Linked DNA regions of Homo sapiens: all the other regions are reported to be linked to region 1. The links are microRNA targets in miRTarBase. Many come from high-throughput screens and were not tested one by one. Region 1 holds a microRNA gene; each other region holds the end of a gene's coding sequence.
What was found. Region 1 holds the annotated microRNA hsa-miR-519c-3p (AAAGUGCAUCUUUUUAGAGGAU, at 1,688-1,709, shown strand). A microRNA usually pairs through its seed, bases 2 to 8, with sites in the 3' UTR of a target mRNA and lowers its output. Matches are read on the target gene's strand: a 7mer-m8 pairs with bases 2 to 8, a 7mer-A1 pairs with bases 2 to 7 and ends in A, and an 8mer does both.

Region 2: the mRNA of CAMSAP2 is a reported target of hsa-miR-519c-3p. Seed matches in the 3' UTR shown: 7mer-m8 at 2,617-2,623.
Region 3: miRTarBase lists FCHO2 as a target of hsa-miR-519c-3p. Seed matches in the 3' UTR shown: 7mer-m8 at 2,341-2,347.
Region 4: the mRNA of ICMT is a reported target of hsa-miR-519c-3p. Seed matches in the 3' UTR shown: 7mer-m8 at 787-793 and 7mer-A1 at 602-608.

The regions. Positions count from the first base shown.
Region 1 is chr19:53,684,835-53,688,019 of GRCh38, forward strand. It overlaps MIR519C (microRNA 519c), which reads left to right and starts at 1,635; the gene lies at 1,635-1,721. MIR515-2 (microRNA 515-2) reads left to right here and starts at 175; the gene lies at 175-257. All of the region lies in intron 2 of LOC107985342 (a long non-coding RNA gene), which reads left to right.
Region 2 is chr1:200,857,538-200,860,722 of GRCh38, reverse strand. CAMSAP2 (calmodulin regulated spectrin associated protein family member 2) reads right to left here. Exons shown (of 17, transcript NM_203459.4): 17 at 19-2,969. The coding sequence ends at 2,664. Among named protein-coding and RNA genes, the nearest start is that of GPR25, 14 kb to the left of the region's middle.
Region 3 is chr5:73,087,790-73,090,974 of GRCh38, forward strand. FCHO2 (FCH and mu domain containing endocytic adaptor 2) reads left to right here. Exons shown (of 26, transcript NM_138782.3): 26 at 279-2,733. The coding sequence ends at 301. Among named protein-coding and RNA genes, the nearest start is that of TMEM171, 31 kb to the right of the region's middle.
Region 4 is chr1:6,222,371-6,225,555 of GRCh38, forward strand. It overlaps ICMT (isoprenylcysteine carboxyl methyltransferase), which reads right to left. Exons shown (of 5, transcript NM_012405.4): 5 at 1-2,892. The coding sequence ends at 2,710. Among named protein-coding and RNA genes, the nearest start is that of ICMT, 12 kb to the right of the region's middle.

The DNA of each region.
Region 1 (3,185 bases):
GCTAACCTGCTGAGCCTTTGAAGCAAGGAACTGGAGATGGTCCTTTTAGGGGTTTATATTCTGGATTCCAGAAAACATGCAGAGAGAGTCAATAAATGTATCTTTATTTTTGTGTCCATTTTAACCAGGTGAGGAAAATTCCGTCAAAAAACCCAGACTTTTGGAGCGAGAAGATCTCATGCAGTCATTCTCCAAAAGAAAGCACTTTCTGTTGTCTGAAAGCAGAGTGCCTTCTTTTGGAGCGTTACTGTTTGAGAAAAACCACGTTGAAGTTGATGCTGATCTTGGTAACACATTTGCAGAGCGTGCTTATCATCAGACTTGCATGATGTTGGGGTTCTGTTTTTGTTTAGTTGTTTTGCATCATGGGGTCTCTGTTGCCCAGGCTGGAGTGCGGTGGCGCTTCCAACCTAGATCTCTTGGGCTCAAGTGGTCCCGTGCTTGCTTTTTTTTTTTTTCTTGAAACAGAGTCTCTGTCTCTGGCCCAGGCTTGAGCGCAGTGGCATGTTATCTGCTCACTGCAACCTCTCCTCCCAAGTAGATGGGATTACAGGTGCACGTGCCACGACGCCTGGCTAATATTTGCATTTTTAGCAGAGATGCAGTTTCATCATGATGGCCAGGTTAGTCTCCAACTCCTGACCTCAGGTGATCCGCCTGCCTCAGCCTCCCAAAATGCTGAGATTATAGGTGTAAGCCACCCAGCCTAGCCTCCAATTTTTTTTAATGTGTGCTGCCAATGCAAGCACATATGTGTAGGAATTATTTTTCATGTGAGCACATAGTATATGGAACTTAATTTTTATTGATGTACGGTCTCAAAAATATATATTTTATCATATTCTTATTATACATGTAACATAGTCATATACACACAAAACACTCTTCTATACACAGAGAATACTCTCGTATCACTTTGGGTAATTTTTTGTTTGTGTGTGTATGTTTTTGTTTTTTTTTTAGATAAGGTCTGGGTCTGTCACCCAGGCTAGAGTGCAGTGGTGCCATCTCAGCTTATTGCAACCTCCACCTGCCACTTCAGCCTCTTGAGTAGCTGTCTACAGGCGCACACCACCACGCCCGGCTAACTTTTCTGTTTTCTCTACACATGAGGTATCACCATGTTGCCCAGGCTGGTCTCAAACTCTTGAACTCAAGTGATACTCCTGCCTCAGCCTCCTAAAGGGCTGGGTTTAGAGGTGTGAGCCACCACACCTCACCTGTACCTGTGTGTTTCTGCTCATTTTATTGAGGAGCTTTTACAGCCTGGCCTGTGGTCTCTCCTGGAGGGTGTTTGTGTGTGTGACAATGCATATTCTTCAACATCGTAGATTCCATTTTGGATGCCCCCGTCGGGACTGTGTGTCACTGTACTGGAACTCGAGTGAACACTTAGCTCAAAATCTATTGCTGTTCTCTAGAATCCAGCCCAATTCTCATGGTTAAATATAAGGTATGTATAGTCGGCATTGCTTTTTGAAACAAGGAACTGGAGATGGCCCTGATAGGGGTTTATGTTCTGGATTCCAGAAATCATGCAAACAGGGCCAATAAATGCATCTTTATTTTTGTGTCCATTTTAACCTGGTCAAGGAAAATTCCAACAAAAAATCAATGGTGCTGGAGCAAGAAGATCTCAGCCTGTGACCCTCTAGAGGGAAGCGCTTTCTGTTGTCTGAAAGAAAAGAAAGTGCATCTTTTTAGAGGATTACAGTTTGAGAAAAGCAACGTTAACGTTCATGCTGATCTCGGCAATACATTTGCAGAGCGTGCTTATCATCAGACTTGGATGAGGGTGGGCTTTTGTTCCTGGTTTGTTTGTTTTCTAAGACGGGGTCTCTTTTGCCCAGGCTGGAGAGCAGTGGCACTTCCAACCTAGCTCTCTTGGGCTCAGGTGGTCCTCTTTGCAGGGTCACGATCTCTGCTCACTACAATCTCCCCTTCCCGGGTTGAAGTGGTTCTCCCATCTCAGTCTCCTGTGTTGCTGGGAGTACAGGCCCATGCCACCACGCCCGGCTAATTTTTGTATTTTTAGCAGAGATGGGGTTTCACCGTGTTGACCAGGATGGTCTCCATCTCCTGACCTCGTAATCCACCTGCCTCGGCCTCCCAAAGTGCTGGGTTTACAGTCATGAACCACTGCACCCGGCCTTTGATCTTAATTTTCAATATGAGACCCATCATGAATTTGGGCATCACCTCTGCACAGGGGCCATGGTGATCTCTGTCACTCCATTCATTTCTTATGTGTGGAGCAAACATTTATGTGTAGGAGTAATTCTTTATGTGAGCATACAGTATATGGAACTTTCTTTTTTTTTGAGATAGGGTCTGGAAAATAAATGATGTACAGCCAGGCGCATGAGTATATGAGCAGTTTTTGTGTGTATACGACATGAGCGGTGGCTCATGCCTGCAATATCAACACTTTGGCAGGTTGAGGCGAGTGGATCACTTGAGGTCAGGAGTTTGAGACCAGCCTGACCAACATGGTGAAACCCTGTCTCTACTAAAAATACAAAAAATTAGCCAGCTATGGTGGCGCACGCCTGTATTCCCATCTGCTGGGGAAGTTGAGGGAGGAGAATCACTTGAACGGACAGATGGAGGTTGCAGTGAGCCAAGATCACGCCACCACACTCCAGCCTGGGCGAGAGAATAAGACTGTCTCAAAAAAAAAATATATATATACATATATATTTATATAGAGAGAGAGACTCTGTCTCAAAAAAAAAAATATATATATGGGTGTGTTTGTGTGTATATATATATTATATATGATGTATATTTCATCATATAGCCATATATATAATTATATACACAAAAAATACTCTTCTACACACAGAGATGACTGATATCACTTTGGGGTGGTTTTTGCTTGTGTGTTCTTTTAAATTTTTTTTTGCAACAAGATCTGGCTCAGTCGCCCAGGTTGGAGTGCAGTGTTTCAGTCTTGGCTCACTGCAACCTTCGCCTCCCACCCCAGCCTCCTGAATTAGTGTCTACAGGCATGTACCACCACACCTGGCCTACATTTGTATTTTTTTACAGACAGGGTTTCACCGTGTTGTACACGCTGGTCTTGAGCTCCTGAGCTCAAGTGAATCTCCTGCCTTGGCCTCCTGATGTGCTGGGATTAGAGGTATGAGCCACCACACCCAACTGGTACTTGTGTATTCCTGTTC
Region 2 (3,185 bases), not on the chromosome of region 1:
GAAACAGAAAAGGAGTCATTTGGTGCCATGCTTTTATTCAAATGAAAGGGGAAAAACTACACTGTACCAGGAAATAGCAAGTATGACAGTATTTTACAGCACAGCATCTTAAAAAACAAAAAACCTGTAAGCAATGCTCTAGAGTGGACAGGTAAGCACACCATACACTGTACATTGCTCAACAGTGTCCATGAAACCATAATTAAATAGCTGAATTTGGCTTTAAACAGCCAAATAAAACTGTAACAGTCATTCTAATACAAAACGGAAAAACCAAGAACTAAATCTTTCCAAAGCTGTGTCAAATAGCAGAATTTGACAGGCTGCACTGGTAACCACGACAAATGTTTGGCAAACTTAATGGAATAGTTATCATAATAATTTGACCTCTGATGATGAAAGCACCAGTGTGTTTCAGTAAGGTTGACGAAAATCCTCAGACTTTATGAAATGGCATATTTTTCAACTGTATAATTTTAAAAACATAATTAAAAAAAAGCTGCACCATAATAAAAAAATCTGCAGACTTAAAGAAATATATCCATATTCCTTCTGCATTAATAAAGTAAAATCTTATACTGAGAGCAATGAACTCTGTGGCAATATTCACATTCTACCTTTAGACCTTATAGACATTCAATTCAACTGTTGGACACACACAAATTTAAGAATAAAGGGTGGTCCTGTTTAGTTTTAAAGTTTCTCCATTGTCTTGCATCCAATTTTCTTTATTTAATAGCGAAGTAATATCACAAAGATTGCTTTGATGAGGGAAATTTAGTTAATATTGAAATGAACAAATTTAGTAACGTAAAATGCTTATTAAATTATCCTTTTGACTACTATTCACATTTTGATTAGATTCATTTATAATTTTTTAAACTAGTTTTAATCTAAACGTGTATTTGACTATCATTTCCTTCTAACTGTGATAGAAATTACTGTCCAAAAGGTAAAATGTGCAATTCCCCATTTTTAATATCCATATGTTATATACACAATATGTATACACTTAAAATATAAGAGTTACATATCCTGGTCTCTTACATGCAAACAGTAGATCACAAATAGTTTTGAGCTACACATGTATCTTGCACAGGTATTGGAAAAAAATCTGTGAAATTTTTTTACAGTTTTAACAAATATACATAAATATAAGAACATAAATTACAGTAAAATATTGACAGCATTTGAGAAAATGTTGATAACCCAGATGCACTGATGCCTAAAGGCCTTATAATAATAGAAAAGTACAGCTCAGGGACATCTCATTCCTATTCTTTTTTTTAAAATAAGTAAATACATCATATGAGACATTAGTTCTTTCTCTAAACAACTCAATTAGAGAAATGTATATATTTTTATCTCTACTTCCCATGAAAGAAAACAAACTACGCATCTCATTTATGATACAATACTGTCTTCCCCCGCTAGTTTACACATTTGTCACAACACTGAAATATAACAGGGTCACATAATCATTCAAGTCTTTTCCTGAGAATGAAGTTTTTCCCCAACTAACCCTCTGGTATACACTGTTAAAGAACAAAGATCATGTAGAGGAGATTTCAAGTGTATACTTATTCTAAGCCATTCCACTTGAAAAGGATTAAAATGAAGAAAAACCCAATATAAGTAAAATAATGTGAAGCTATTTTAAAATTAAAATGTAGCCCTTTGTACATGTTTAAAAATTCTAAATATAATTTTTATATGAGTTATAAATATAATGTAAAGACTTCTTGAGAACTTGTTTCAGGAAGTCTTACATCTTCAGATTGAAAGACTACTCTCAAAGTGTCATTCACTTCTGCCAACTTATAAAGTGACTTACTTTAAAAGAGATAGAAAGCCTTTTTTGTTAAAAGAACAATCTAAATTATTCTGAGTTGGCCAGAAGTGGTGTAAAAACAGCACTGATTTAATCAGCAACTTCTCATAACATATTCTTGGTTAAGCTCATGTGGTTTAAAGCGAACCTACTAGCAGCTCTTTACAACACCTCCTCTTATTTAATAGAGAATGTTAATACTTGAGTGAATAATAAATAGAGTTGTAAATACTTAGCAGAATAATTTTTGCAAATGCTGTAACACCATTAAAATATGAGGGTTACTGTAAAACTAAACACTAGTGTTTCTCTTAACATCATAAGAAAGGTGCGAGTTACTTCTAAAGGTATATTTCCTACTTTCATGATCTCCACATGAAATAAAATACAAAGGTATCTTAGAATAAACCCCCAGGAGAGAAAAATAGCAAACCATCTGAAGACAAGAATATACATTAAAAGGTTAAAAAAAAGCAACAAATAAAACACATAATTTGTAATCTTAACCATATTTCAATGATAAATCCAACTAATATCCATGAAAATTCAGTGCTTTAATGTATCTAATATCAAGCAGGTGAACCTGATAACACATACAAATCTCCATTTGTGAATTAAAACATTTCCTTCATCATTTGGACTTATCACTTAATTGAGAATGTTCTGCACTCCAAAATACTGTGGTTTACATTCCAGTTGTTCATGACAACAGAGCTTAATGTCCAGTTTTAATTAATAAAAGTCTTGTTGGCAATTAGAAAGATTTTCTATAGGCAGGAAAGATGAAGTGCAAATTTACCATGAATGTTCTGAAGCAAGTATTTCCCAACTTCTATGCCTTAGTGGGTAAAAGTTTTTTGGGTGTTACTGGTCTTTTGGTCTGCCATAAATGGCTATGAATGGTAATTGCATCAACACTGGCAGATAAAGTTTTAGCGGGTATGTGGCTAAACTGTTTCCTGTCAGAATTATATTTGTAAAGTCCTTCAATCATTTTTTTAGTGATAGATTTAGGGCCTATCCCAGTCAGTTTATTGATTTCTTCAGTTTCTGGGCAATAAGTGTATAAAGATCTGAACTGGCATCCTGAATCCCGGAACAAGATTAAGAAGTTGTTGGCATCTGATTTCTCCATTTCCTTTAAAATAAAAAACAAAAACAACATAACAACACGAATAAAAACCCTTTATTTTGCTGAATAAAGTTTATATAATTATGTTACGTTTCTTAGTCACATTTTATAACATTATTTCAATGACAAATCTTAAAGCCTATTGCTAGTCTTTAATAAAATCTGCAGGCTTCCAGAACCTAATGTGAAAATAAACTAAATCTGATAATTAAAACATCTAGC
Region 3 (3,185 bases), not on the chromosome of region 1:
GGAAACATTTGTATTCTAACAGTTATTAAAAAACTGTCAAGCAATTTATAATCTAAAGACATGGAAATTTTTTCTTTAACCCTTGGTACAAGGTGCCAGGTAGAGACACACCTGGGAGAGAGTTCTTACGGTCAGTATAGCTGAACACCTGTTATCTGATTCTAATGTACTGTAAATAGCAGATGGGAACTAGAGTTTTGTATTGGTAACCACAGTGGAAAATGTCCTTAGAGTGCATTTGAAATTGTAATTGCAAAGGTCTGCTTGGCGTTTTTCAGGACGATACCTGGCGGATTGTTGATGGACCTGGGAAAGTGATGTGGCTTCAGGGATTACAAACCTGCCATTCTGCATTATCTGTTCTTTCCAAACACTATTTTAACTTGTATGATGTCTTTCAAACTTAGACATATTTGAGAGCTGACTACAAACATTAAATCGCACTTTTAAAGTGAGTCATTGAAATAAATAGTACTGAAATGATTCTCTATGTTGTAAATGATCAACTACAATATTCAGGAAGCACATTTATTCAGATTCTCAGTAAAAATGAAGTTTTTGTAGGATTAATTTTTAAATTATTTCCAGTGTCTATGTTGAAAAAAAGGGTTATAGTGTAATATCAGGCCTAAAGTTTCAGAAGAGCAAGCACAAAGTAATTTAGCTTTCCATACATTTTTAGAGTCAGAGATAACTTTGAAATTTCATAAGTTTGATATTCAGTGGATACAAATAGAACATGAATTCTAAGTTTTGGGTAATGTTAACTCAGAACACTTAATCAAATTGAGCTATGTGCCATAAGGTAATCAGACCAGAGTCCAAGTTGTATGCAAAAAATCTATAATTTGATTCTCATAAACATATTAATAAAGTATAAGTGATGTTTTATATGATTTTTAAAAAAAATTCTCAAGTGCAATGTGTTTTAAAATAAGCTTGCAAATGACAGCAGAGACATTTACTTCTGCAGTTAGTTAACTTTATAGGAGTTGTGATTTTTTTGATGAATTAATGCTGTAGATTTAATTTATTTTTATATGGAATTGCATAATGTGTGCCTTTTAAAACAATAACAAAAACCAGAGATGTGCCTATACAATTTGTGTTCATTAATGTGCCTCACTTTTTTTCTCAGTCTGAATCTTCTGTTCAGAATCTTACAGTGATCAAGCATTTTTATAAGATATTTGCAATTTTTGTAAATATTTTTGGCCTGCAACTGGGAAGGGGATTCAGAGTCATAAAGCCTAACTTAAGAATCCTGGCTCACTTCTTTGGTGATACACTGTAGCCACTAGAAAGAGAAATAAACCCAATGGCATGTGTTTACAGGAAGAAAGATTACCTTCAGATACTTGACATTAACCTCATCAAAAGTGTGTGAATTTTAAAACAAATTCTAAAAAAACTATAGTGCTAAATTGGTAACTGGTATTTTAACTCTCAATTTAGCATTTTCCTTGATACTTTATCATTGAAAATTTATGCATTTATTTACTGATTGTGTTGTGAACATGAGTTTTATGGTATTTTGTGAGGGATGCATTTTTTAAAAGATTAATTTTGGAAACAGAAGGAGAAGCACTGCCATTTGTTTTTATTTCAACAATTGGAAAAATTACCAATTTGTACATTTTAATTATTCAATTTCTACTTTGTAAAAATAGGGAAATTATTTGAAGTGATATATTTGGTTAAACATTTCTAAAAATAAACTACCAATACTAAATAGTAAGAAACCTAACTTTAGTAGCAAATCTTGATTAATTGAAGAAATAAAATATTTCGGATAAGGTTTCATAATTTACAAATGGGAATTTCATTTATAATAATAAATATGAGTGTCCTTTATTTGCCTAGTAGAAGTGATAAATTGTGTTATATATGATAATTTATATAAAACCACTAATTGTTCCGTTAAGCTTCACAGAAAATAAAACCTCTATTACTAGACATTTATGTAACATCTTGCTGTACTAAATACAGCAGAAAATCTACTCTTTAGCAATATATAACACAGTATATGCTTTTTTATATATTCAATGTTAGCCCAAGTCTGAATTTACATTTGACTAAAGCAGCACATAAGATAATTTGCTAAAATGCTAATCTTTACTAAATAGTGAGCTAAATTAGAATTTCTAACTCTTATATTGTGCTCTTTTAAATGCCAATTACAGTCCCTTACTGGAATTCTAACTGTAATTTGCTTTGCAATCAAACTGCTTTTAGGGCAGCCAATATTTTATTATTGGAATTCAGACACTGTTCTTACCGTGTTTGTTTTTAATCAAATATTACCTAAAAATGTACAAATTAGTGAAATGGTTAAACTTCTGCACTTTCTTAGTTACCACAGTCTTCATACCAAGTATTGGGTACAGGTTACAATTTTGAAGCCATATGAGTTTATATTGATTTTTTTTTTCCATTTAAAAATCCACTAATGGTGTAAAAGAGACCAGTAGATTTTCAATGGGAAATGTACCTAGCAAGCTGGTTCTTGCTTATATATAGTGATAAACTTTGTAGCTGCCTCTTTAACCAAGAATTTGTAAACACAACTCTAATAAATGTGAGTTTTAAAGGATTGTTATTTACTACTTTGGATTGTAATTAGAACAATGCACATCTGTCTTCCAAGATTTTGTAAATATTTTTGATTTTTTTCATTAAATGTAAATTTTACATAAAAGTTGTGCTCTTAATAAACATGTAATATATAATTTATCAATTGGTTTATGTGTCTTTGTACTTGATAGTAATAGCTATATCATAATGTTAGGACAAGGCAAGCTGGCCAAGTAATTGGTTTTTAACTTTGTACTACTGTTTGAACAGGCGTACAGATCGAACTGTTATTTATTGGTTATATAGAAAGCTTCATTTGGAGTATATCCCAAAGTGTCAAAATTGTTTAACAAGGGATTATTTTTAATATATTTTAAGATATATTTAAATTGATGTTAAATTTTTGCAGACTTTCTTCCTAACCAGTTGCTCAGGAACACAGTCTCAGACAGTTCAAAAATCATAATGTTCCAAAGAATTAGTTAAGACAATCAAGCCTCCCAAAATGGTAAATTTAGGAAGGAGCAAAAGAAGGAAATTAGAAAAGAAAGAATTTATCCTAACTATTGAAAATTTTGGGCTGGGTGCAGTGGCGCATTACTGTAATCCCA
Region 4 (3,185 bases), not on the chromosome of region 1:
CGAAATGGTGCCACTGCACTCCAGCCTCCAGCCTGGGCCACAGAGCAAGACTGTCTTAAGAAAATAAAAAAAATGGAGTTCATCTTTTATCCCTAAGTAATTGCTGACTTCTGCTCTGGGATTATAAACAGGGTGGGAATGTTCTCCCACCATCCCTACCCCTGGAATTCCTCTCCAAAGCAGAGTACGTCAAGTTTTCCCTGGTGTCAGACAGCATTTCACCATGAAACCCTAAGACCTGCCTCCTGGGCTCCTTCCAGCTGGTGGGCCTGGTGTGAAGGTGGGCTTCCTGGGCCTCTGGCAGATGGAGGATGGCATTAAATGCCAACACAGTCAGCTTACCATCCACAAGGCCAGCAGCTGCCAACAGCTGCCCTAGACCTATCAACAAGACAACTTCATGGCTCCCAATGGGAATGGAGGCTGGGCCCGCCCTACTTAGAGCAGGGGAAAGAACTTTTCCCTCAAAGAGCCGGGGCAGGATGCCAGAATCTAACTACATCCTCTCCCGGTTTGCAGTTCTAGGAAGTGGAATTTGCTGCCCTAGGCGTGGTCTAAAGGACAAGTTTAGAAATGATTCAACTCAAGTTCCTAAACAGAGTAAGTGCCAGTTGATGTCCCACCGTGGATCCTTTACTCCAGAAAAATTGTAATGATGGCTCGGCCACCGCCTTGGCTAGAGTCCCACTGCACGCGTGTCGTGAGGGCCGATGGGCAAGTCCGTCCGGTTTTTTTTGTTGTTGTTGTTGTTTTTTGAGATGGAGTCTCGCCCTGTTGCCCAGACTGAAGTGCAAAGGCCCGATCTCAACTCACTGCAACCTCCGCCTCCTGGGTTCAAAGGATTCTCCTGTCTCAGCCTCCTGAGTAGCTGGGATTACAGGCACCCGCCAGCACGCCCAGCTATTTTTTTGTATTTTTAGTAGAGACGGGGTTTTATCATGTTGGCCAGGCTGGTCTCGAACGCCTGACCTCATGATCCACCCGCCTTGGCCTCCCAAATTGCTGGGATTACAGGCGTGAGCCACCGCGCCCGGCCGTCTGTCTGGTTTTCAAACCAATCAATGAACCCGTAAGCCTCTTTGGTATATATAACAATGAAAAAATTCATTAAGCCATGAAATCTAGAAATAAGTCATATTTCTGAGTTGATAAAATGCTTTTCTGAACATACATTTTAGGTATCTGGCACAATTAACCAAATGTCTGCCCATTTTTGTGTAGCTTTCATACAGTACAGATTTCATTGATGTCGCTCCCACATCTGAGTATTAAAAACATTTGACATTGTTCTTCTCAGTCCTCACAACACCCCTGTGAGGTAGGTGGTATTGACCCCATTCCACAGATGGGGAGGTCTAGGCACGGAAAGGTTTAGTGGCTCCTCACAGGCCGCGTGGTGGGGCAGCAGAGTGGTGCTCTGGCCCCGCGCCGACGCCGCCTTCACATTCACACTTCTTCAGTGCCACCGCAACACTGCATGGCAGGATCTCACGCTGAGGCCAAGTTCCTGTCTAGTCCAGAATGAAGCCAGCGTCTCACCTCTTAAAGCTTCGATGTGTGACTCAAAGCCAACTTACTCTCCCAAACTTGCAAAACAAACATACTGACTGAATCTTAGTTGGGACTATTTGCAGTATTTAAGATTATTTTTGAGAGTCAATCTGCTTGGATTTGTAGTTGTATATGCTCAAATCCCTTTGGAAAACAGTTTGAAATGACATGAGGGACAATGTAATTTTGAGAACAGAACACAGAAAACAAGAGTTCTGAGACTGGCATTGAAATTGAGAATATAAGCTATGGTAAAATGAGAATCAAATCCCAAATAAACGGAGAGCAGCACTTCTCAATGTTTAAGGCCACGCACAGGGCAGGCATTCAGTAAGCACTTCTTGGATCAAAAGAAACTGATGCTCCTTTGAGCCGCCTATCACTGACAACAGGAGCTGAGACCCCCGGGAAAGCCAGCCAGGGCCATGATCCCCTTGGCCTGGGGCCACGGTCACACAAAGCCACTCAGCCAAATCGTGTAGAGTTATCTAGGCTTACTTGCTGCAGGATAAAAGTTGAACTAGAACACCAAGCATTGAGCTAGGAATACCCCTTTGAATGTGTACTGCTACTTATAAAAAATAGGTATGTAGCTATGATTAAATAGATGAAGGGCCAAAGCATCCTATGAGGAAGTATTTTTAAAATTGTATAGATGTTCATGCAGTGGGGGACAGAAATAAAGAGGTTAAAGCGGTCTGTGTTTTTCGGTTAAATGAAAGGTTGTAAATGCATTTTTACCGCTGATAAGAAGGGGTACCTGCTACCCCTTTCTGCTGTGGAGTGTTGCTGAGGACAGAGTCCATCTCTCCCAGCGAGTCCTGGTTATCCTTTACTTACACTCTGGCCTCGGGGGCAGTGGCGTGTGGCCTCGGTCCTCCCCAGGTAACTCTGGAGGGCGCTGTGGAATATTGCTGTGATTTGCCCCTTACTCGTCTTTCACCCATGTTCCGCCTTGATTCGGCATAAGGACAGACTGCTCCAGTGGGGCCTTGGGTCCTCAGGCCTTCTGACCGCTTGGTCTTGAGTGACATTCCAGAAGAGTGACTAATGACATAAAACGATTAAGAAAATCCATGTGGCAGCGGCCAACCGGAAACAGTTTTGTCCCAGGCTGCACAGGGTCGGAGGCCCCAAGGTCACCGGGGCCACTGCCCGTCACAGGTCCACCTTGACCCCCTTTATGAAAGGCAGGCCCGTGGGCACCCTCTTCTTATACTCCAGGTACTCCTCTCCAAAAAAGTGAATTAGTGAGATTTCTTCTTCTTCTGTTCGATCGCGGAAGAATCGCCACACTGTCAGGGCATAGCTGACGCCGCAGATGGGGTTACACAGCATCACCTAACAGAGGGAGACACCAGGCTCATCAGGGTGACCGTGGGATGACGCCCTGTGCTTTGGTAGGCGTCTGTCTCTAATACCCAGAGGATTTCTGTGCCCATGCCCTGCTGAGACCGTCAGGGTCTCTGGGAGCAGTACTGTCACCTTAGCCCTGAGCACTCAGTGCTGCAGGCCTTTCTCACGTGCTTTCCTGTTGCTCCTCTTACATGAGAGAGATCTGTAAATCACAAGATCAACCTCTTGGATTTCAACCCTCAGCTTGGGGTGACAGCAATGCCCCCCACCTCCAGGTG